Linked DNA regions of Homo sapiens: all the other regions are linked to region 3. Evidence: fine-mapped expression QTL. A gene starts in region 3. Each other region holds a variant in brackets. All regions are shown on one strand. Distances are between the middles of the regions. Region 1 overlaps DMTF1 (cyclin D binding myb like transcription factor 1). Region 2 overlaps ABCB4 (ATP binding cassette subfamily B member 4). Region 3 holds the start of TP53TG1 (TP53 target 1).

The links. PIP is the estimated chance that this variant, and not a neighbour inherited with it, causes the effect.
Region 1: its variant is fine-mapped to the expression of TP53TG1 in whole blood (INTERVAL, PIP 0.99).
Region 2: its variant is fine-mapped to the expression of TP53TG1 in unexposed skin (GTEx, PIP 0.94).

The regions. Positions count from the first base shown.
Region 1 is chr7:87,179,049-87,187,237 of GRCh38, forward strand. DMTF1 (cyclin D binding myb like transcription factor 1) reads left to right here. Exons shown (of 18, transcript NM_001142327.2): 8 at 497-654; 9 at 2,261-2,293; 10 at 3,180-3,289; 11 at 5,349-5,577; 12 at 6,781-6,932. Among named protein-coding and RNA genes, the nearest start is that of DMTF1-AS1, 31 kb to the left of the region's middle. The variant CT/C (reference allele first, on the strand shown) is at 3,465.
Region 2 is chr7:87,446,712-87,454,900 of GRCh38, forward strand. It overlaps ABCB4 (ATP binding cassette subfamily B member 4), which reads right to left. Exons shown (of 28, transcript NM_000443.4): 5 at 7,824-7,881; 6 at 6,233-6,424; 7 at 4,912-5,083; 8 at 3,257-3,381; 9 at 323-494. Among named protein-coding and RNA genes, the nearest start is that of ABCB4, 25 kb to the right of the region's middle. The variant T/C (reference allele first, on the strand shown) is at 4,163.
Region 3 is chr7:87,342,119-87,350,307 of GRCh38, forward strand. It overlaps TP53TG1 (TP53 target 1), which reads right to left and starts at 3,374. Exons shown (of 3, transcript NR_015381.1): 1 at 2,925-3,374. CROT (carnitine O-octanoyltransferase) reads left to right here and starts at 3,546. Exons shown (of 18, transcript NM_021151.4): 1 at 3,546-3,649; 2 at 4,222-4,312; 3 at 6,930-7,065. The coding sequence starts at 6,951. RefSeq lists a silencer at 3,362-3,571.

The DNA of each region.
Region 1 (8,189 bases), 160 kb before region 3:
AATGGTCTAATCTCTGCAGCGTCTCTATTTAGGCCTCATTTTTCCATTTCTAATACTGTTTGTGTCTTTTTTTAAAATTTTGGCAGAACTTTAATCATTTCAAGTTTTATTAATCTTAATGGATGTTTTCAAAGAACCAATTTCTAGATTAGTTTATCCTTTCTGTGCTTTGATTCTGGATTCCATTGATTTTGCTCTTGTGATTTTCTTCCTTCTGCTTTCTTTAGATCTATTTTTAACTTTTTATAATTTTAAAAGAGTTGATGGAAATTCAATTTATTGAATTTGATAGTTTATTCTTGGAACATTTAAGTGTCACTTTTGTATCTCTTGCATCATCTTAAAAGTTTATATTTGATTTATTAATGAATTAGTGATATATTATTTTTCTAAATGCCGTTGATGACCTTTAACATTAAAACAAATTTTAAAAGCATAGTATATCCATATGCATTTTATCAGAAATCCCTAAATCAAAGAAATGTAACCCATTTAGGCACGCGGAATAAAAGATGCTACAGAAATCATCTTTGAGATGTCAAAAGACGAAAGAAAAGATTTCTACAGGACTATAGCATGGGGTCTGAACCGGCCTTTGTTTGCAGTTTATAGAAGAGTGCTTCGCATGTATGATGACAGAAACCATGTGGGAAAGTATGAGAACTTGTAATGCTGCATGTTTTCATGTAATTAGGGGAAATATTTGAGGAACTGTCCATTTTTTTAAACAATAGAAATATGGTCAAGGTATTAATTGTTGTTAATATTTTTATCCTCCAGGTCCATGTTGTGAATATGGTGAAACCTTATTATTAAAGCCTCTTTTAGAAATTAGGATCTAATTCACTTTATATAGGTTAGATTTAAGACTTGGCTTACTTAATATGTCAAAGTCTGCTTTGTAGTAAAGTAACATAAAAAATACAGTAATGATTAAAGATTTAAGAAGTGTGAAAATAACTTGAAATTTATTGGTAACATTTTTCCTATTTATTTTTAGAATATAGCATTCCTAGGTCAGTGGCCTTTTTTTAAATCCAGAATGGAAAAGAACTACATTTCTGAAAACAATGTATGGATTTCTGTTTTAGATAGCATTTATGGGAAGGCATCATTAAGATTCTTCAAATGCAATGATTATATACTGTTACTGACATATTTTTAATTTCTCTTTGGAAATTTTAGGTGGCAGTAGTATGGCTTATTAGATACTGCCGAGCTAATGTTGGAGCTCTTTCTCTAGCTCTTCAGCAGCCTGCTAATGAAAGTACATTTGAAAGCTGAAGAGGATTAAATTATGTTTTTGTGACAGTGGAAAAAGAGAAAAAATTTTAAATGGAGCATAAATGACTTGTTAGCAATTCATAAACTTTCCATGCATTACAAATGGTTACAAAGTGAGCAGCGTTTCATAATTATTAAATGGACATTTTTAAAAAGAACATTACATAGGCTGTATTGAGTACTTGCCTACTGTAATAAAGAGCAAGAGTATGTCAGATGTCCATACCTGGGTAAAGGAAATGAAGATAATCTTAATTTGTTCAGTGCTTTGAGGGAATTTTCTGTAGATTTTCTTTTTAGCTCTAGTTTACAATGTCACCCATAAGTTTTTTTGGAGTAGTTATGATTTGAGAGTGCCAAAATCTAAGTTTGAAATAAAGGAACTGTTAGACAGCATAGGAGCAAATGTATGTTTTAAATGTTGATTCTTTTTCTAGAGAAAATTATACAATCCTTACCTTTATTATAACTAAAAAATATTTACTGTTTAAAAAAAAATAAAAATAGAAGCATTTATTTTCAACTTTTTTTTTTTTTTTTTTTTTGAGACAGAGTCTGTGTTGCGCAGGCTGGAGTACAGTGGCATGATCTTGGCTCACTGCAACCTCTGCCTCGTGAGTTCAAGCTATTCTCCTGCCTCAGCCACTCTAGTAGCTGGGATTACAGGCGCCTGCCACCAGCTAATTTTTCTGTTTTTGGTAGAGATGGGGTTTTGCCATGTTGGCCAGGCTGGTCTCGAACTCCTTGCCTCAAGTGATCCGCCTGCCTTGGCCTCCCAAAGTGCTGGGATTATAGGCGTGAGCCGCACCCTGCCTATTCTCAACTTTTATTAATCCACTTTAAAATGGGTTACTTTAAAAGTATTATATGCTAAGTGACTTAACATTCAGCTCCCTAAATGAAATTCTGATTTTTATTGAGGTTTTTAGCATTCATTGTTTTAATTGATTTTTTAAAAATTTCTCTGAATTTCTAGATATACACCTGAAGAAATTGAGAAGCTCAAGGAGTAAGTTTTAAAGTTTTTTTCATTAATTCTAATTTTTTATGTCTTACGTCCTTAAAAGTTTTACTTTGAAAATTTCAAGAGGTTTTTGGCAGACTGGTATAATTGAATTGTGCTATTAAGCATGATTGGCCTTAAAAAGATCACATCAAATCCATTACTTGCACAAAATAACCATTCTCATAATGTATAATCTGGTCTCCTGATGCCATTCACCAGATGCTTCCTCAGACCACTAATAGGGGTTCCAGAAAAGATTAAGGGGCCATTTTTGGTAGCCTGAAGACTAAATTTGGGGAATTTATATACCAGGATGAAAACCAGGGTTGTGCTACATGGCTTGGTTTAGAATGGTGACTTGGCAAATGTTTCAGTGAATATCTGGGCTGACTCAACCTTGCAAAGGCTATTGAATCTCAGGAAGTAGAATTTTGCTTTATTGAGTTAGACCTTAAAGTATGGTTTAATGAATTGTATGGATCATGAAAAAATTTGAAGGTAGATTCTGTTTATAATGATAAAGACCTGTGAAACTTTAGATGTCTAAAGAAGAGTTTGTTGGGTATATGCTCAAAAGGGAAAGTCTGGGGCTTGCCTGGGAGATTGTGTCAGTAACCTGAGGGGAAATTGGTCTTTTTTGAACACATATCCAAGTTACTTATTTCTTCTCTGACCCAGGAAAAAGGCAATTGCTGCCTGTTTTTTTTTCACCCACAGACAACTGTGGACCCCAAAAAAAGGCCACACTTTCAAACTTTGGCTCTCAAAGTATTGCTGCCCACAACTTCCAAACCAGTCAAATGGGAAGAAGAAGAATGAAGAATAAATGATGAAATTAAAAGGGAGAAAACAATTGAACCAAATGCTGATTGGCAGACTCTTGTTTTAGGCTCCGGATAAAGCATGGCAATGACTGGGCAACAATAGGGGCGGCGCTAGGAAGAAGTGCATCTTCTGTCAAAGATCGGTGCCGACTGATGAAGGATACTTGCAACACAGGTACTGTGACTACTACTGGTAGCGTTTTCTTGTCACCACTTAAGCCTCCTGCCCCTTAGGATACTGCCTTTTCTTTGCTCTTGGGGAGCGATTTAGATCATTCACCTTAGTTCAGACTTTATTTTCTAGTCTTCCTTTTCCTTGAGCTTATTAGATATATCAAACTAATCTTTTA[CT/C]TTGTTTTTGTATAAGGTAACATTGTCTTCAGGGACACAACATCACCTTAGTGTCAAGATGATTCAGATCTAACATGTTTCAGTTTTGTAACAATTTCAATACTTCCCCAGTTGAGAAAGTATTTTGAAGACATACATGCAGCAAGTAATTTTAATTTAGGCCCATCTAACTGTTGAATTTACATTAGCAACAGCTAATCAGTGAGTGTTTATGAAAAACTTTAGTCACAGGTAAGTCCCAAATTAGGAAGAAGCTGTGTTCCAAAGATTTGTAAATATTTTGCTTATTTTAAACTCAAAGTATATTTTTCCATAGAAAAAATTTATGATTGGTGTTTCAGTCCCCTGGCAAGACCACAAATGCCTCTTAATGCATGCAGATGTCCTGATCATACTGTTAAACCTAATCTTTGCGACCAACAACGTATTTAGGCTCTGCTATTAACTGTCATTTAACCTTTCTGAGCCTCACTTCCTTCTGTAAAGTAAAGAGATTAGAGTAGGTGGTCTCATAGTGCCCTTTTAGCCATAATGTTCTCTGAAGGATCCACAATCCATGCCCACTGTTGCAATTAAAAAAAAAATTTCTGAAGTTTAGCTTTAGCTTCCAGGGCATATACATTTTGACCTTAACCCCCTGCTCTAAAAATGAAATCAGAATTCTTTCCTGCTTAACTACTGCACTATCACTGTTACCTGCAGGGCAGTGAGAACATAACTTCTACCAACTTTGTCATTCTGTGACATGGCCAGCTTAATGAAAGAAGCAGGGCTGTAAGCTTTAGATTTAGGATAGGATCTCAGAGTTTCATGTAAGATGCTGTGAGTACAGAACCCCTTTTGGTAACAAAATTTGGAAGGACACAGTGGCATTTCCTGATTGCCAACCTGAGGGATTGATTGATCTGCCTGCTTCCTTCTCATGTTGTGACATACAGCTGCTGATGAGGCCATGCCATGAAACAGCACAGTCTCAAAGTAGTCCCATCCTTTCACAGCATGCTAGAATAGGAGAGTAGAACTTTGTCTTGAATCCATCCACAGTATTCATAATTGTGCTTGGCATATAATGAAAATTCAATAAACATTTGCTAGATGAATGGAATCCCAAAGCAAGCACAGTCTTTTTGAAATTTTCTAGAGGTTTTCAGCTAGTAATAACAAAATGGAAACAGAGGTAAAGAAGATGAAAAAAAATGGCTTTTTTCCCTTTCTGTTTTTCTGCTCTAGCTCCATAAGAAAAAGACAGAGAGGAACATTTGGGGTTATCTATTAGTGGGTTTATGGGTTGAGAAAACACAGGAATAAAAGTAAATACTTGTATCAGACTTTACTAATATTTCATCACAGTAGCTTGGAGTTGGGATAGTGAGGAAACAAGATGGTAGAAACCTAGTTTTTACTAAAATAGGTTGAGCCCATTGGTGTAATTTCCCTTGTCCCTCATCATTCATTCCTATAAGTAATGGCCTCTTGAACTTACTTTTGCAGAGCAGGGAATCTTAGGTGACAGTAAGAAAAAAAGCATGCCATTTCTTGTCTGTCAGCCATTGACGAAGCTCTTCCCACTTCACTGTTTATAAAGGACTTAGTGTAACTTGAGAATACATTCTTCTTTGTAGTTATGTTTTGGGTGGTTTTTCTTTTCATAATTGGTCAGTGCTTTCCATTAGGATTCTTTATTTTCTTTTCTACTGAGACCCTTACTGGGCTAGTAAAATGAAACTGTCTTAGTGGGTATATATGGTTTTCCACCAGAGGGTCATTCAGAAACAAACTCTTAGTACTATTGCTTACTTCCTATCAGTCCTTGTAAATAGAGGGCTGAATCAGATTTGTAAAAGAAGTTAGCAGTGGTAGTCTGGATGATTTCCTTTTTTCAGGGAAGTGGACAGAAGAAGAAGAAAAGAGACTTGCAGAAGTGGTTCATGAGTTGACAAGCACTGAGCCAGGTGACATAGTCACACAGGGTGTGTCTTGGGCAGCTGTGGCTGAACGAGTCGGTACCCGCTCAGAAAAGCAATGTCGTTCTAAATGGCTCAACTACCTGAATTGGAAACAGAGTGGGGGTACTGAATGGACCAAGGAAGATGAAATCAATCTCATCCTCAGGTTTGTGTCCTGAATCTTGTAATGACAAAAGCAACTTAATTTCTGTGGATGTCTTGATAGACTTTCCTCTTTTGGTTTTCCTGGATGCCTAGTGTCTGAAAAGTATCCTTTCCATAGAGCACTACTGTTTAAGATCTTAAGTATTTCATATTGAGCTCTTTTTTTGTGTTGTGTTTGTTCCTTTTTTTTTTTAGTGGGTTTAGTGCTCATGCAAAGTACCAGATTGAAGGCGTGGAGACTGAAGTCCTCTCTATATCCACAGAACAGGTATGGCACAGGCAGCGGCAGTGTAGCTTTTCCACTGTCCCACCAATGTGCCTCAGTCCTAGCCTAGGGGGAACACGTTTAGGATAAGAGGGCTGTTCAGTCTCCATGCCCTTCAATCCTTGGCTACTGTGCTAAGATTGCCAAGAAGGGGGCCCAGTCTGTAGTTACCTCCACACCTCCAAAGTAGACCAAATCAAACACATCCATTTCATACAAATTCAAAAAAGCTTTAAGATATCATAATCCCAGCTTATTTTTTTAAGTAGCTGGTTTAACCATTAAGATTTATTAACTAAAATGGGCAAAAATACTAGCAAGAAATTATTTAAGACCCTGAAGTAATAGAGACTGTCACCATGGCTACTCCCTACCGAAAATCAAATTGTCACAACAAAGCTAGAAAACGAACAGATTTTTTTAAACCTCAAATTTTGTTGTACTGTTGTGTTGTTTTTTGATTGCAGCTATTGCTTTTGTGTTATTTTGTTTTGGATTTTTTTTTCAACTAGTCATCTTTATAAATAGCTCATTTCTAAATATTTTTGCTTAACAATGGAAACGCTCAGATCCAGGAAGTAAATGACTTAGTAAATGCCACACTATGAAACATTGCATATATACAACTAAATCTGTTCTTATTCTAACCTTTAGCATACTCCTTTTCCTTCACAGTGCCTCATCTGGCTCTAACCATTTATAGTTTAGCCCATTGGTTGTACCTTTAATTAAAAGTGGTTGCTGTTGGTATTTCTTAGCTGTTAGCTCTGAAAGCAGATCTGCACTCCTGGAATCCTTTCCCGTGTAACTTAACAATAGCATCTCATTGGCATAACCTGCCATTCCCTTTATTTGCCAGTGCAATTACCTGTAGTCAGAGGAGGGGTTCTTATAGAGAAATTAATTTAATGTCTAACGATGCTTATTTTGTAACTGTAGGATAGCAGAACTTGATGTAGCTGATGAAAATGACATTAACTGGGATCTGTTAGCTGAGGGATGGAGTAGTGTCCGTTCACCACAATGGCTACGAAGTAAATGGTGGACCATCAAAAGGCAAATTGCAAACCATAAGGATGTTTCGTTCCCTGGTAATGTATTACTTACTTTTTAAGCTCCTCCCCTTTTCTTACCATATTTACTCCTTAGGAGTGAGAGGTTAGAAGTTCTTTGCCCCAGCTAGAGATATCATAGCAGATTTCTACTTACACCACTTCCCTGTTTCTCTCAGTAATTGTTTCCTTCCCCAGAGAAGAGTTAATACTGTTTGTAATTCCTAAAGCCCCTAAAATGAAAATGTACACACTTATTCTTGTTCTTCTACGTAAACTATCAGGAGGAAATAAAATCATGCCACATAACGATTTAATTTTTATGTTTTTAGAGACAGGGTCTAGCTTGGTTGTCCAGGCCGACATGCAGTGGTGTGATCATAGCTCACTGTAACCTTAAACCTGTCGGCTCAAGTGATTCTCCCACCTCAGCCTCCTGAATAGCTCGGACTACAGGCACACACCACCATGTCCAGCTATTTTTTTTCGTAGAGATGAGGTCTTGCCATGTTACCCAGGTTGGTCTCCAACTCCTGGGCTCAAGTGATCTTCCCAGCTTGGCTTCCCAATGTGCTGGGATTACCTGCATGAGCCAGCATAGCTGGCCACTCATAACCTTTCAGTCAACAACAGATGTCATACATAGTATTGGTCTCACAATATTAAAATACTGTATTTTTACTTTTTTTCTATGTTTAGATACACAAATATTTACCATTGTGTTACAGTTGCCTACAGTATTTGGTACAGTAACATGCTGTAAGGGTTTGTAGCCTAGGAGCAATAGACTGTATAGATCATCTAGCCTACGTGTGTAGTAGGCTGTACCATCTAGGTTTGTGTAAGTACACTGTGATGATCCCATGACAGAATCACCTAATGGCTCATTTCTCAGAACATATCCCCATCCTTAAGTGATTGATGACTATATTTTTATTTTGTACAAAGATGTACTTCTGAAAACCTAAGTTTAAGTCAACTTTTGTGAGTTGTATAATTTCAAATATCTTAGCTAGGTGTGTTAGAGAAATTCTGTGATAATTTTGTAGAACAAAGGCTCTGTAATTTTCTAATTTTATTAATTATATAAATCTAGAGATCTTAAGTTGGGTTTGCTTAAAGTGAAGCATACTTTTTGTTGCCTGTTTTGCATTTAGGTATTAAACTTAGTTGTACAGTCTGTTTAATTTAGGTTACTAAATTTATTCCCCTTATTATAGCACTCTTAACTTCCATTATTCCAAAGGAAAATTTAATGCTGAGGAACTTTGCCTTGATGAAAATGTGGTTTTTTAA
Region 2 (8,189 bases), 100 kb after region 3:
CAATAAAACTCAACGGCAGAGGGAGGATGGCTCCCATCCATATTTGTTTATTCCTAAATTCATCCCATTTTTATTTCCTTTTATACATTGTATATGTTTCACAAATGGTCTAACCACATGCTATTTTCTTATCCACACTCATAATTATGACTTGTATATACTAGAAAGTCAGCTCTGCCCACTGGACAGTGGAAAGATTCACCAAAAACAAAAACCTATAATCATGTTCATCTTTCAAAAAGGAGCGATATCAAAGAAAAGAGAAGGTAGATGGAGAAATAAGATTTTCATATTCTTCATAAATGTTAGGAGAACTACTTACTGTCATTGCATTTCCAATAGTATATTCTTTTGATATGACTAGAGTGGATCCATACCAGAAGGCCAGTGCATATGATGCATATATTAACAGGAAGGCAATACCCATGGAAATGTTTGCTGAAATAGCTTTTTTAATTCCAATCTCTTTGGCATTTTCTAAATGTTTCTGATACCTACCAGAAAAATGAGAGGGAAAACATTATAATTAAGAATAACAATCCATAGTCCGAGTCACACTCGGCTCCTATATAGTTGGAGGTTTAAGTAACAAAGTCAGTCAAGGTAATGAACCCATGGTGAGACCCAGATCTTTGGGAATTGAACTAATTCAGGATCAGCCAGGCCTAGAACAGATCCAAGCCTTCTCTTTACTGGCCCGGTTCCATTTCCCTTCATCCATTCCAAGCCAACCAACATTCCTGTGGTTATTCCAGAATTGAGGGCTCACCCTGGGATATGGAAGAGCTTCTCCATCACCTTCACGGCAATATCACAAGTCAGGGTTAAGAGGGAATGAGAGAAACCAAGCCAAACCAGAATTGATTGTAAATGTCACTGGAACTCATAAACAGTTAGATTCTTAACTCTGGTCAATGTCTCTTCTCTGGAGAAAAGAAAATCGTCCCTCTATTGTCCACTGGGTGAGGGATGAAAATTTTACATGTTGTTGTACATAAACATAGGCTTCTCTCTTTGACTTTTTTAAAAATCAGGCTGACCTTCATCTGTCAAGCTAGATACAGGTTATAAGGTAGTCACTACTTATGGAATATGAGTTCTTATTCAATTTTTCCAGACTTTAGTTTCATATATGAAAAATGGATTTAATAATGCCTAATTTGCAAGATAATTGTGAGGTTGGTAGATAATTGTAGAAAGTAGTACAGTAGCTGGTTCATAGTTAGCAAGCCTGATCATTTCTCTTACTATTATATTAGTATCATTGTGTTCAACTTTTATCTCTTCCTGAGTTTTGCTCATTCTATTACTATCATATCTTTGAATCATAATTCAAATGCATTATTACTGGCTGCTGGCATTTGATATAAAGTTTAAAATATCTAGAATGATTCTGTTAAATTACAATTTTTTTTCATCAAGTTAAATCAAATCTACTTTTTCATACTAGACCCAGAGGGTATGTAAAATTTAATTTGGGCTCCCTGAAATTTAAAGAAAAATCCAATGGGTATGCAATGACACTTCGAGGGGAAAATATCACACAAACTAGGATATTTTTCTTTGTGACAAAAAAAAACAAAAAACAAAACACAGCAACACCAGTTTTAGTGTTGAACCAAATAAAACATGAGAATTCATTAGTCTTTTAAAAAACATATTCTGCCATCAGAAGGTTTGTCTTTTTTATTGCGTAAAGCACCCAGGTCTTCAGGGTGCTTTCCTCTGGTTGGGGGCTGCATTCATAGAGCACAGCTGCATCTCTGGGGGTAGCCAGCAGGCCACAGCTAGCGCTGTGATTTCTCCTGTGTGGCTGAGCCTCAAGGCGTGGCAGGAAGACTTGCATCTGCCCAGTGTGACACACAGCTCCAGTGACAGCAGCGGACACACTGTAATTACCTTTGCTTAGGTGGCTCGCTTACCGGGGCTAATGGAGCGGCACAGATTACACTGACATCCTGAGGTCCAACTGAGGGTTAGTGTGGTCTGTGTGGACTATTATGTACAGGAAGCAGCAGTGAGAGAGAAAAAAGGAAGAGGTTAGAGGATCAGAAACATGTTGGCTTTGAAGAGGGATTAAGGAATAGAAAAGTAGAAAATTAAATGGGGGGAATAAGGGAAACTTTGTTTTTAATGCTAGAGAATTTCCAGAGAATTTTTATATCCAAGAGTTGTGAGTATCAAGAGTCCCATAGAATAGCCAAAGAAAATACTTTATATGGAATCATACTTCAACTACAGTAGGGGATATTGTTATTTAAATAAAACCCTAAGTAATTATTTTCATTTAAGTAGAGCAGAATAGCCTTTTTCATAGGTGTATTCTTATCCCCAAACTCATTGAGATATACACACTAAAGATGTATACACAGCTTTTCATATGTCAATCATGCCTTGATAATTTTTTCAGAGAAGAGTTTGCAACATGCCTCCAGATACTGGTCAATTTTCCAGGCTTATCCTGGATCATTAAAGTTGAATGCCAGAGGCCTGGGTGGGAAGCCCTGCCTCATTGTTATGGAGGACCCACAAGGCCCTACAAAGAATTCTGGGCTATAACTAGGAAGTCGATGTTTTCTCAGGTTTTTCTCTTCTATATTCCAGTTCATAGTCATTAAGGAGTAAAATAAAATAAAAAATATTTTGATAAGTATTTTTAATATAATTATTTTCCTTTGTAACCCTACTTATTTTGTTTTTTGGGGCTTTTATTTATTTATTTTTTGGTTTTTAAAAAATTTTTACTCTTTTTTTGTGATAGAGGCTCACTCTATCATCCAGGCTGGAGTTCAGCTCACTGCACCCTTGACATTCTGGGCTCAAGGGATTCTCCTGCCTCAGCCTCCTGAGTAGCTGGGACCACAGGTGCACACCACCACACTCAGCTTATTAAAAAAAAAAAAAATTGTAGAGCCAGGGTCTTACTACATTGCCCAGGCTGGTCTTGAGCTCCTGGATTCCAGCTACCCTCCTGCCTTGGCTTCCCAAAGGGCTAGCATATTTTGGTTTATGCATTTAAAAACAAGGGAGTCCATTTGTATTATCACATAGCCAAAAGAGTCCATGGAACATAAATGATTAAGAATCTTGCTTTAGAGTCTGACATTCAACTATAGCCATCAGTAAAGGGTGCTTATAATTTATGCGAGAAGGGTTAATATTAGGAAAGGGAAGGTAAAAAACACATACCACAAAGAAGAAGCAACAAAATGTAAAAACACATTCCTTAAACCAGTGGCTAAAGAACCTTCCTGACCTTTCCAGCTCTTTGTTCTGGCCCCCGAAAGCTATCACAGTCCTGATGGCCCCCAGAGCCTCTTCTGCCACGGCGCCTGCTTTTGCATAAGCAGCTAGTTCTTTGTCACTAAATGCCGAGAGTATCTGGACAGAAAAGAAACAGTGATCACTTTTGTATAGGGAGAAAAGTTTAAAGGCACTCTGGTCAACCCTTTAACCTACTTTTTCTTCCCAAACCCTCTCCTTTAACAAATATTAAAGTCATGTAGCAAATGCCAGTGTTCTGGATCCAATGGCTGCGTCCACATCCCTCAAAGGCTATATCTGACCCACCCTGGTGATAGGCTCCCCAAGAGTACTCAGGAAAAAAGAAAATCCACACATAATTCTCTAAATAGCACTCTTGGGAACACTGTCAAGTTCCACATCTACTGTTTTTCTTTGTTAGTTGTAAGGTAAAATAAAATAAAACTTTACTGCTTTGAAAGAATTTACCATTCTTAACTTTATTGTGTCACAATTTTTTTTTTTTTTTTTTTTGAGACGGGGTCTCACTCTGTTGCCCAGACTGGAGTGCAGTGGCACGATCTCGGCTCACTGTAACCTCTGCCTCCCAGTTTCAAGTGATTCTTCTGCCTCAGCCTCCCGAGTAGCTGGGACTACAAGTGCACACCACCACGCCTGGCTAATTATTTGTATTTTTAGTAGAGACAGGGTTTCACTGTGTTAGCCAGGATGGTCTCAATCTCCTGACCTCGTGATCCACCCACTTTGGACTTGTGTCACAATTTTTAATTACTATAAAAACAATACTTCCAGACCTCCTCATGGGCATTCTGCTGAATAATAAGATAGCCAAACAAGATGTTTCAGGAGAAAAGCAAAGGAAGAATCAAAACAAAAGAGATACAGGTAGTTCACTGTG[T/C]AAATCATCAACGTCAGGATGAGCAAAAATTGCCAGTAAAATTTCTCAACTCTGAAGTGTTGGCTAAAGTAGAATACATTTTGTGTATTTTATTGCCAGGCAAAACTGGCAGAGTGCCACTTAACCATCACAGGTAATGATTAAAACAAATAGAACAAATACAAACTCTATTTAAAATTTTTATGTTCATGCAATAATTTGAGGGAAATGTTATATTTTAAAGTTGCACTTCCTTAACTAAGGGTAATCGAAGTAAGAACTGTGAATTTTTTTTTTTTTTGAGATGAAGTCTTACTCTGTCACCCAAGCTGGAGTGAAGTGGCATGATCTGGGCTCACTGCGACCTCCACCTCCTGAGTTCAGCGATTCTCCTGTCTCAGCCTCCCAAGTAGCTGGGATTACAGTCATGCACCACCACGCAAGGCTAGTTTTTCATATTTTTAGTAGAGACAGAGTTTTGCCATGTTGTCCAGGCTGGTCTGGAACTCCTGACCTCAAGTGATTTATGTACCTTGGCCTCCCAAAGTGCTGGGATACAGGAATGAGTCACCACACCCAGCCTGTGACATTTTGAATTATGTTAAAAATTAATTTCCTTATGAAAGCATCATATTAACACCATGTTACTGGATGTAGTTTCAACTGACATTTAATGTAGACCTGAACAGGTACAAGTACGAGACTTCTGCATATTAAAGATTACTGTGTGCAGGGGTTAACACACATAAAAAGGCCCAGCTTTCACATACCTTTGCCCAAACGGCTGCAGAGAGTCCTAGAATAGGGCTGATGGCCATTATCACAAGGGTGAGCTTCCATCCTCTGATGAATCCCACTATGAATCCTGCAAAAAACGTGGCTACTGCTTGAAAGAACATTCCAACCTTGTCACCAATTCCTTCACTGATTTTGGAGATGTCACTAAAAAAGATCACACCTAAGTGGTTACAGGCAGGAGGTTTCAGTTAGAAAGATGAAGTAGACATCCAACAAACACATAGACAAGTAAAATTTGTTCACTGACTGCAAGCCTCTTTCAGAGTCTTAGCCTCTTGAATAACATCTTCCCCACCTAAACACCGCACAAAGGAAGAAATTCAGGATTGATCAATGCTTCTAATAAGTTAGTATCATTAAGTTGATACTATTAAATGAGTCAATCCTATGAGAGAAGCATTAACATTTTGAGCATAAAAATGTATCTGTTTAAAAGCAAGAATTAAGAAGAACATTGCAACAATAATAAGCAACAGTAGTAGGGAAGTATTACTGCATTTCTTCTTATAGGGAAGTAATAGGGAAGAGATCTTTGCTTCTACTCTTGTCCCTATTCCCAACCAAGTCTATTCTCAACACAGCAGCCAGTGGGATGCTTTGAAAATGCAAGTCTGACCATGCTACTCCTCAGCTCAGAAACTTCCAGCGGCTGCCATTTCACTGGGTGAAAGCTGAAGTCTTGAAGTCTTTGTGGAGGTTTACAAGGCCCTAAATGTCTTGCTTTTCCCTTTTTTTTTTTTTTTTTTTTGACTTATTTGCTCAGGATGCCTTTGCCAGGACTCCCAGTCAGGAAAGTTTATCATCTATCTCCCTCTACTGGAATGTAAGCACCAAAAGGACAGAGATCTGTGCTTTGTTCACTGATATATTACGAACACACAGAATGGTACTTCGCACATGAAACACCCTCAAATATTTGTTGAATAAGTGAAGAGTTGACAATTACTAAAGCAAGTCTCTTTGTAAATTAATTCAATCATCTATTCATTGATTCAACCATCTTTACTGACAGTCTAGCACCTGTCACGTCCTGCAGTAGAAAGTTCCATGAGAAATAAACAGGTATAAGATGTGAATTCAGTCCTCAAATAAACCTACTATGCACCTTGGGGGAAAGCCAACATGCAATGGCATAGGCTATAGATGCTGCTAGACATGGCTGCCAGATGATCGATTTCTAATATAGATCAGATGCTCAATCTAGTAACATTTTTCATTTAAAATCTTTCCTTGACATATTTTCACACAGTAATTAATTTCTATATGAAAGTGTGACATTAACAATGTACCTACTCTGTTAGCCGCGTATTGAGTTCAGTGGTGTCGTTGATGTCAAACCATCCTATTTCCTGTCGTAGAATAGCATGAAAAAACTTCTGCCTAATTTTCCTGATCTGTCGACCAGCTGCCAAAGTCCAAAATGAAACTTGTATATAGGCAGCAACAAGAACTCCAGCACCCAATCCTGAGTAGTAATATGCATATCTGAAAAAAAAGAGAAAGGCTCTATTAAATACCTTCTCTTTTCTTTTTTCTTTTCTTTTCTTTTCTGAAACTGAGTCTCACTCTGTCACCCAGGCTGGAGTGCAGTGGCACCATCTCAGCTCACTGCAACCTCCGCCTCCTGGATTCAAGTGATTCTCCTGCCTCAGCCTCCCGAGTAGCTGGGATTACAGGCATGCACCACCATACCTGGCTAATTTTTGTATTTTTAGTGGAGATGGGGTTTCACCATGTTGGCCAGGCTGGTCTCGAACTCCTGACCTCAAGTGATCTGCTCACCTCCGCCTCCCAAAGTGCTGGGATTATAGCATGAGCCACCACCCCCACCCTACCATCCTTTATTCATCTCTTTCAGGAGAAATTTTCAGAACTGGAAATTAATCAATTTACTAAACTTAAAACAAAAACTGTATAGGACATTATAACAAACAGACATTACATTTTTCTTTTTTTAAATTATAAAGTGATGAGCTCCATGATGGCAAATCTATTTACTTGAACTGTTAGCCAAAGAAAATGGATAAATTTTTGTTGTTAACTGCAAAAAAGTTAATGATTTGTTTTTAACTGATATTGATAACTTGTGGATACAATTTAACTCCTCTTTAATAATTATATTCTAGACTTGTATATCTTATTGTACTGAAAAGTTCACTACTATTTACATATTGCAAATATAGTAATAAGCAGATTGAACATGTGAAATCGCCCTTTCCATATTGATTTTTCCACATTCTTTATAAAAAGAACCAAAAAACTTTGTTCCTATTTGTCAGAATTTGAAATATTTTAAAAAAAGATATGATAAAATGTCATGAATTCAAACGAATTTGGAATGTTTTACCAAATTAGTAGAAAGTTAGTATTTTAAAAAATAATAAGTACATATCAATACTTTCAAATTTTTATTATCTAATTTTATAAACTGCTTCCAGATAGACACCTTTCAGGCCTTTTAGCATACAGACAGCACTCGTTACAATCAGCAACACTGCTATGCAGACATACAAACATCATGCTTACAGGCTTTAGAGATTTCTATTGAGAAACTAGAAGGAGGAGAAAATGCCATAAATGACATTATTGGATCAAATGACAAAATTGGAATATAGATGTTATATTAGATAAAAGTACTGAAATTTACTGAAGCTAATAGCTGTACTGTGATTATGTAAGAAAATATCCTTATTCTTAGGAGTCATACTGCAGTAAAGGGCCATGATGTGTGCATCTTACTTTAAATTGGGATTTGGGAGCAAAAATGATAATAATAGGTGAATCTGGGTAAAGAGTACACGTTATTTGTATATTCTTATAACTCTGTAATTGGAAATTATCTTCAAATGAAACTTTAAAAAAGTAGACCATATATATGAGTTACCTAGTCATTTCTTCTTCCAGAATTTTGCCTGGATTTAGCAGCGACAAGGAAAAGTTCACTAAATTAAAAAATAAAATAAAACATGTTAAAAGATCAAACTATTAATAGGCATTGCCAGGTTTTTAAAAATCTGTTAATAATTTAAATGTATGAAAGCTAGAAGATGCTATTGTTAAGTTTCTCTTTAAAAAACACTTTTCTTTGCACACTTAAGTGCATTCTTTTCACTTTACTCAAGTAAAGAGCCCAAGGGTTTAGGTACTGGACATTAAGGGCCAAGAAAGGGGAAGATAAGCCCTCCCAGGTCTTTCCCCCATCCTGGCGGTCTCAGCCTTTAGCAAAGCAGCCTTCTAAGGAGGCACAGAG
Region 3 (8,189 bases):
GCAGAATCAAGTCTGAAAAGCAACTGATGTTTCCATTAATCTTTTTCTGGGGAAAACCTCAGTTCTAAGGATTTAGCATCCTGTAAGTGAAGTTTAACATAACAGTATTCCATAAGCAGCCTTTTTATGGTCAGACCATTGCCTAATTTTAATATAATTTTAAAATGTGTGCATTAATTAAAAAATGGGAAAAGGATCTTAATAAACATTTCTCCAAAGAGGATATATAAATGGCCAATAAGCACATGAAAAAATACTCAACACTCTTAGTCTTCACAAAAAAATGTAAATCAAAACCACAAGACACCACTTCACATTCATTAGAGTGGCTGTATTTTTTTTAAAAGACAATAGCAAGGGCTGTTATATTGTTATTGTAACTAAAGGCACAGAGAAATTGAAACTCATATTGCTGGCAGATATGTAAAAACGGTACAGTTCCTTTGGAAATCAGTTTGACGGTTTTTGAAAATGTTAAACATAGAGTTAACATACGACCCCACAACTCCACTCCTAAAATACTAATTGAAAGCCTGTTCACACAAAGCTTGTACACAAATGTTTATAGTACCATTATTTAAATAGACAAAAGGTAGAAACAACCCAAATGTCCATGAACTGATGAATGGACAAACAAAAAGTGGTTCATACATTCATCAGTCAGTTGATGAATCATGTTTAATGCCTGTTGGTAACACAGAATTTAGAGCCACTTTGCTTCACTCTTTTCCCAGTCTTGTTATTTATTTCAATGGAAACAAAATGTTCCTGTAAAGATGCCTGGATTTTTGGATATAGAAAAAGTTGTGGGACTGAAAAAAATGAGTGGAACAGAGATTTGAGTATGTAGAAAATAATCTTTTTAAATATTTGAACCAAATGTTCTAAAATTAGCTTATGGTGACTGCATAACCCTGTGAATATAGTAAAACCATTGATTTGTGGACTTTAAATGGCCGAACTTTATGGTATGTAAATTATATTTCAACAAAGATGTTAACAAAATTTTTAAATGTTATATTTTGTTTAGTAAGAAGGTATTTTTTTCTGAGATGCAAAAACATCATAGTTATCTTAACTCTTCCCCTCAGATTTTGGTGGCAACTTTTCATGTACTGTAAATATCATCAAAAGCAACCCCAAATCAATGATTAGTACTAAAAAGAGACCTTTTGTATCAAACACTGTTCATCTGCTGTTGGCAGTGGAGTTCATTTTTAATGCTACATTGCCCTCTTTGCGTCCAGTGTACTTTAATTTGCTGTTGGCTGCTTCCCAAAATGACCATATTTCTACTGCCCCCCCATTAAAAAGAAGAAACATCACAAAATTATTTCTTCAACATGTTCATTTTATACATCAGAATGAAAGGAGGTTACAGGTCTCCCATAGATTAGGGCTATTTACCATATCTCCTTACTTATTAGAGTCACAAATCTTAGCAGGAAGCCAGTTATGCAGATTGAAACATGAACTTCTTAGTCTAGCATTTTAATACTTTTTAATGGTGAAATTTATCTAGACTTATCTATAAAGTCTTTTGCAATTTGTGGTATGCTGAGTAAGAACTACAGAAGAACAAAAATAAAAGATTTTTTTAATGGCAACTTAAAAAATTATCACCACTTGTACTACTTACAAATTTTCCTCCAAAAAGTTACTTTGACTCATAGTCAATTTTTAATCTTGGAACAACTTCTTGCTATCACAAATACTTCAAGTGCCTAAAACATCTTCCTTACCAGCCAATATCTCCCGCTCCACTCTAAGAAATGCAAACTCGTTCAAGTTTAACCTGAATGCAACATAATTTGGAATCTTTCATTAAAATATATATCACACATTTTGAAGCCAAACATATTTTAAAATACCTGTTTTTGGTGATTTGGGGTACATATGCTTATCAGTATAACATATTTTAAAAGATTTTTTTCTACATACTCAAATCTGTGTTCCATTCATTTTTTCACTCCCACACCTTTTTGTCTATCCGATAATTCAGGAATCTTTACAGAAACATCTTGTTTCCATTGAAATAAACAACAAGAGTAGGAAAAAGAGTGAAGCGAAATGGTTCTAAATTCTATGCACCAACAGGCATTAAACATGCATAAACTTTTAAAGAGATGCCAAGACTCACTAAAAAGGAGAAAAAAAATACAACGAAGGTTTCTGAGTAGTTTTTAGTTACTCAATTTAAAAACTTTATCTTGTAAGCAAACTTTAACATCATCCAGAGCATCGCACTTATATATGAAAGAAAAAGTTCTTTATCACACCTTCAGAAATTACAACTACAAATTCCTAATCCCTTATTTAAAATCTTTTTGGCTAGATATGTTTCAAAATTCAGAACTTTTCTTAGAATAGTACGTCTGCCATATATTATGAAACACTTCCAGCAAGCTGTACTGTAATCAAACACAATATTTCTGTAGAAAACTTATGAATATTTACACAAAGGGAACATTCAGTTACACATAGCCTCACTTCCCTTCAGGTCAAACTTTACTGCTAAAGGAGTTAGAAACGACAGACAAAGGAATGGGGCCTGTCATGACATGTTAATTTGAAATCTAAATCTTTATCTTTGATAACTAGTTCAGAGTCAGTGTAAACATTTGGTCTTTCCTTCCACAAAAAAATGAAACAGTGTATTTAAAATTAAAAATGAAACAGTATATTTTATTTCAGAAGGTAAAAGCAAAATGAATTAATCTGTGAAACTAAGTCAATCACATTATGATCTTCTAGAACTTGGGTAGCTCCACTCTGGTTAAAGATTCCATTTCTTGGCACAACAGTAAAAGACATCAGATAGGCCCGGGGGTAAGCATCCCTGGGGTATTCAAATAACTTGGGTAGCAATGAAGAGCTGCAGAAGAGCAAGGAGACCCGAGATGATGTAGTGTGCTGCGGCATACCTGAGTTGGGCAAACTCAGCCTCCGAAGATTAAAGGAAAGAGCCCAAGTAGGAATCTGTGTGATCACTGTTCTTTTGCCAAGACACGGGGTGGACAATAAGATTCCTTTACAAAGCACTGGTGTAAGTGTTCGCCTGGTGCTGCAAAAAGCGGCTCACTGGGAATGGGGAGGAGCGTGTGGTAAGCCAGACCTGCGGCGAGAAGTTGGGTGAAAATGGGTCTTAACCATCGCTTCCTGCATCTATCCCAGAGGGTTGGGTACCTTCGTGGGCGGAGCGCGGCCTGCCCAGAGTGCCTTCTAGATCCTGGGTCAGGCGCCAAGCTCCCCAGCATCATGCAGGAAGCTGCAGCCCCGCAGAGTTAGGACAGCTCATTTGGCACCCGGCGAGCCCTTCCCAGGCCCGCAGCCCAGAATAGAGCCGGGGCCCAAGACGCCCACTGGAGACAGGGTCGGGTCCCACTACCGCGCAGGCCCGGCTCGCCCCCGACGTCAGGCACGGGGCGGGACCCTTGCAGCTGTCCGTCCAGTCCCGTTCCCCGGAAAGTGAGGGGCGGGACCCTCGCGGCTTTCTATCCAATCCTGTTCCCCGGCGAATGCGGGGCGGGACCCTAGCGGCCTTCAGTCCAATTCCCGCACCTTTGAGGCCCAAGGGGGAGCGAGCCGGTGCTGCTGCAGGCTGAGGCTGCGGCAGAGGCGGCGAGGCGCGGGCGGTGAGGACGGACAGGTCCGTTGAAGCAGCATTCCCTCCCTCCCCTAATCCTTCAACTCGGGGGCGGGGGAAAGTTAAGTCGTGCAGAACCGCAAAGGTGCCTGGATTTGGTGGGGGAGTAGTGTCATCAAGCATCTCGCCTGCTGGGGTCTCAGGGGTACCCTCAAGGTTGGGCCGCGGGGCTGCTCCGTTGTAGTGCTTAGATTTCTCTCACTTGATGGCCTCTTGAGTGCAGAGTTGCTCTTGGGTTGGTGGGAAGAGCCTCCGAGCTCTCATTGCCCTCTGCTCCTGCTTCTACCCCTTGCCACTCTGCGACGAACCTGTTACCCAGCCACTGAAAACGTATCCTCTACCCTTTGAACCCGTCTAATGGAAGGTGTACTTGTCTGAAACCTACTTAATTGTATGATCATTTACTCCTGCTCTCTAGCAGGTGGACTATTTGCGTGTGTTTGCAGTGATTCACGAAAAGTTTGTCTTGGGAACTCCCAACTCCTAGTTTGTCTGCATTCCACCTTCTTTCACTAGCTTGTTCATTTCTTTTTCCCTCTTAAATATTTGTTAAGCTTGTTTCTTTCTTCCCACAGTCACCGACTTAGTCCAGTTCCCTGTGATCTCAAAACAATTGTTGCAGCAGGCTCCTGGCAGTCTCAAGCAGTTCATCTTCTTGGTGTACTGGTATGTGACAATTCCTTCACGTATTGTTCGTGGTTCTTTTCCACTTTCTGTGAATTCATATCTAATTGCCCCCAGAAAGTCAATTCTAATTAAATCTAGCATAATCATTTTCTTAGTGCTATTGGAACCATCTTATTTAACTTAATCTTTGTGGTTGAGAATTCAAGAAAACTCTTCAAGAAAGAATCCAATAATTTATATTTTTAATGTGTACCGGTTGGTGGGTTAAGCACTATAGTGGGTATGTAACTAATACTCTTGCTTCCAGTTTTCTAGAGTCTATTAAGTGGCACAGAGGTAAACAGAATAGCTTATCTTCTCTGTATGTGTGTACTAGTCTTCTATTGCTGCCTTAACCAATTACACAAATGCAACAATTAAAACAACACAAATGTATTATCTCATAGCTTCTGTAAATGTGAAGTTTGGGTGGGCTTAGCTGAGTACTTGGCTTAGAATTTCACAAAACCGAAACCAAGGTTTCTGTAGATTTGGATTCTTTTCTGGAGGCTCTAGGGGAGAATCCACCTCCAGGCTATTTCAGATTGTTGGTAGAATTCACACTGACATTTCTATATCCTTACTGTTTGTCAGCCTGAGCCTCTTTCAGTTCTTTAAGGCCATCTGCATCTTCAAAGACACCACAAATCCTTCTCAAGCATTAAAGCAGTCTTACTTGTCTGCCACTGGCCAGAGAAAGCTCTTTGCTCTTATGGACTCAAGTGATTAGATTAGTTCCAATTCGATAATATCCCTATTTTAAGGTCAGTTCTGTAGAGAATATCACAATCACAGGAGTAATGATCTCACCATATTCGCAGGTTCTGGGGATTAGCAGGGGTGGAATCTTGGGGGCCATTCATAGTAATTGTGCCTACCACAATATGGTGGTTTCAGGCAGGATTATTTTGTTTTTATAATGTGCTTTCACAGGCATTGAAAACAAATTCTGACTTTATTGAATTGTATGATTAACCACTCTAAGATAAGGAAATTCACTTAAAGTTGGTTGCCCTAGGGGCACATGGCTAGAAAGTGGCAGAGTCTGTACTTGGATCCAGATCTACATTTCCATTAGGTACAAACCCATTTTTATGGATGGTCAAAATGGTGTGCAGCCAAAGTCAATAGATAGAAAGAAGCTAAAGAACTTTGAGTTAATTATTATTTCTCATTTTCAAATTATCTCTTTATATTAGTGGTACAGGCTAAGCTCTTCTCCCTACAATAGAAAGCCCAAAATACAATGGTATGAATAAAATAGAAGTTTTTTTTTTTCCATACATCTAGAGGTAGGAGTCCAGGACTAGTAGGGAGATTCTGCAATCCTGCATATATGACTTCCATAAATGAGGCCATGGTGCTGTTTAGTTCGTCACTACCTAGCAGGTAGTAAAAAGGAGGGAAAGTGCAGGGAGAACACATGCATTCCTTTTTGGGAGCATGACCTGGAAGTGACACACACAAGGTCATCACAAAGCCACACTGAGCTCCAAGAGAGGGTAGGAAAGATAAAACTGGGGGCTGTATGCACAGCTACAACTCAGGATTCTGTTAAAGCAGAGGAAAACAGGTATTAGCTGAAAATAGTCTCTTCTGTGTCCATGTTTTTGATAGTGTTCGATTCTGTAACCTATGAGTGGAATACTTTGTTTAGCGTTGCTATCAGTTTTAAAAAATAGTTTTTGAGAGAATAGGAAGTTCAAATTCAATATTAACGTTCTTTGATTTCTCAGTTGCTATTTTAACATATAATTACATTTAATATATTACATTATTTAATATAATTAATATATGATAATTTACAAAGGCTTTGAGAAACCTCATTTTTTATTTAGCATTTGTATACCTTATTCACATTTTGAGTTAGATTTCTTTGATAGCAATTAATACACGTGTCAATATGTTCAAGATTGCTTTGGAACACTTGAGACCATTCTGTGTAGACCTCATACGACCTGTGCAATTAAAGCAGCTTGTCATATGATTTATGTATTCTATAATAATCTTTAATTCTACAGTTGGACACTTCCACACCTCTTTGTACTTTGTGCTCCAAAGTTTTCTATATCAATGCAATATCAACACATAATCCTTTTCTATACATCAAATACTATCTACCCACTAAGATTTACTGCAGGTTCCCTTACCTTCTATCATGTTGTTTTGTATAGGGGAAAGATTGTAGTCTTAACAGATCTGGGTTTGGGTCCTGTGTTTGACATTAGGTAAGTTACTAAATTTCTGAGTTTTGATATATTCATATGTAAAATTGCAAAGAATGCCACCTTTCAGAGATAACATAAAAGTTAGAGAGCTAACACATGTTTTCTGTAATGCAAACTGGAGTACCTGGCAAATGCTAGGTGTTCAATAAATGGTAACTAATTATACCAGTCCCACTGATCACTCTTTACTTCTAGCACTTTGTGTCTACACATTCTTTTTAAGTTGGTTTTCTCTATCTGACAGATTTATAAATTTCATAAAAGCTGGTACCAAGTCCTAGATATGCTGTGGTCCCTAAATACTGGTTTAGTGAATTGTGAATTGTACCTAGGATACGTAACACTATCTATGAGATTGAAGTTGTGAGGGCTCTCTCTCTTTTCTTTAGGTTTCCTATTGTGATTTTATCATGGAAAATCAATTGGCTAAATCAACTGAAGAACGAACATTTCAGTACCAGGATTCTCTTCCATCACTGCCTGTTCCTTCACTTGAAGAATCATTAAAAAAATACCTTGAATCAGGTATGTTAATAATCTTTTAGTATATATTAATATTATTAGTAACTTAGAAAACTGTGATACTGTTGCTGGAGAAGGGGTCTCGATCCAGACTCTAAGAGAGAGTTAGAGTTCTTGGATCTCTTGCAGGAAGGAATTCAAGGTGAGTTGCAGAGTGCAGTGAGAAGAGACAGTTTATTGAAAGCTTCTCCATTATAGAGTAGGACATCCTCAGAAAGCAAGCAGACTGTCTTTAAGTTTTTCTTACATAGGGGTCTTATCGATGTAAAGACTAAGCTGTGCCTATGTGAGGGTGAGCAGACAGCATGACAAAATTTATTATTCTGTTGATTTAAAGAAAACAATCCTTGACATTTTAGTGCATGAATACATCAAAGAATTATGTTAATCATCTCAAAAACATATATTGTTATGGGTATTGAGACATCTGGACTTTCTACTGTTGTAGGAGTGTGTCATTGTAAGTATCTTTAGGTTGTTTCCTCAACTGTAAATATCTTATGACTGGGTCATGACTGGCAAGGAACGTGCCTTGCTAGTCTCAAGATGGAGCTGAATTTAAAATGGTGTTACTCTGGCTCTCCTGAGCTCCTGCTTCCCCAACATTTCCCCCTCTACTTATGAGAGAACCCTTAACCTTAAGGGGAGATAAAGGGTGAAGGTTGTTCTTTTGTAACTCCTTCCTGGAGGCAGTAGATGTTGATGGTTGGGACAGGGTCTTCTCATAATAGTGTGCAGTGAGCCTCTTCAGGGAGTAAGGGAGCTCCTTGCTTGCATGATATCCCAATTGTTTCTAGAAAGTTAATATACTAGGTTAGTAAATAGAAAGGTGAAACAGCTGCTAAACTATTTTATCTTGCAACCCTATACAATAAACACAACAGAAATAAAAGCACAATAACTAATAACAATGAATATTATAATACCAAGCATACTGAAAAGAAATGCTTTCCAAGTGCTGGAAAGCTCATGAAACTATGCTGTTATGGGGTCATAAGACCGGGAATCCATAGCCAAAATACAAGTTTCTAGAGAACTCATGTCCTGGGATATATTATGGCAGTAATCAGGAACATAATATTCAGTTTTGTTCAAGACACAAGTTCCTCCCTTGGCTGCAGTTAAAG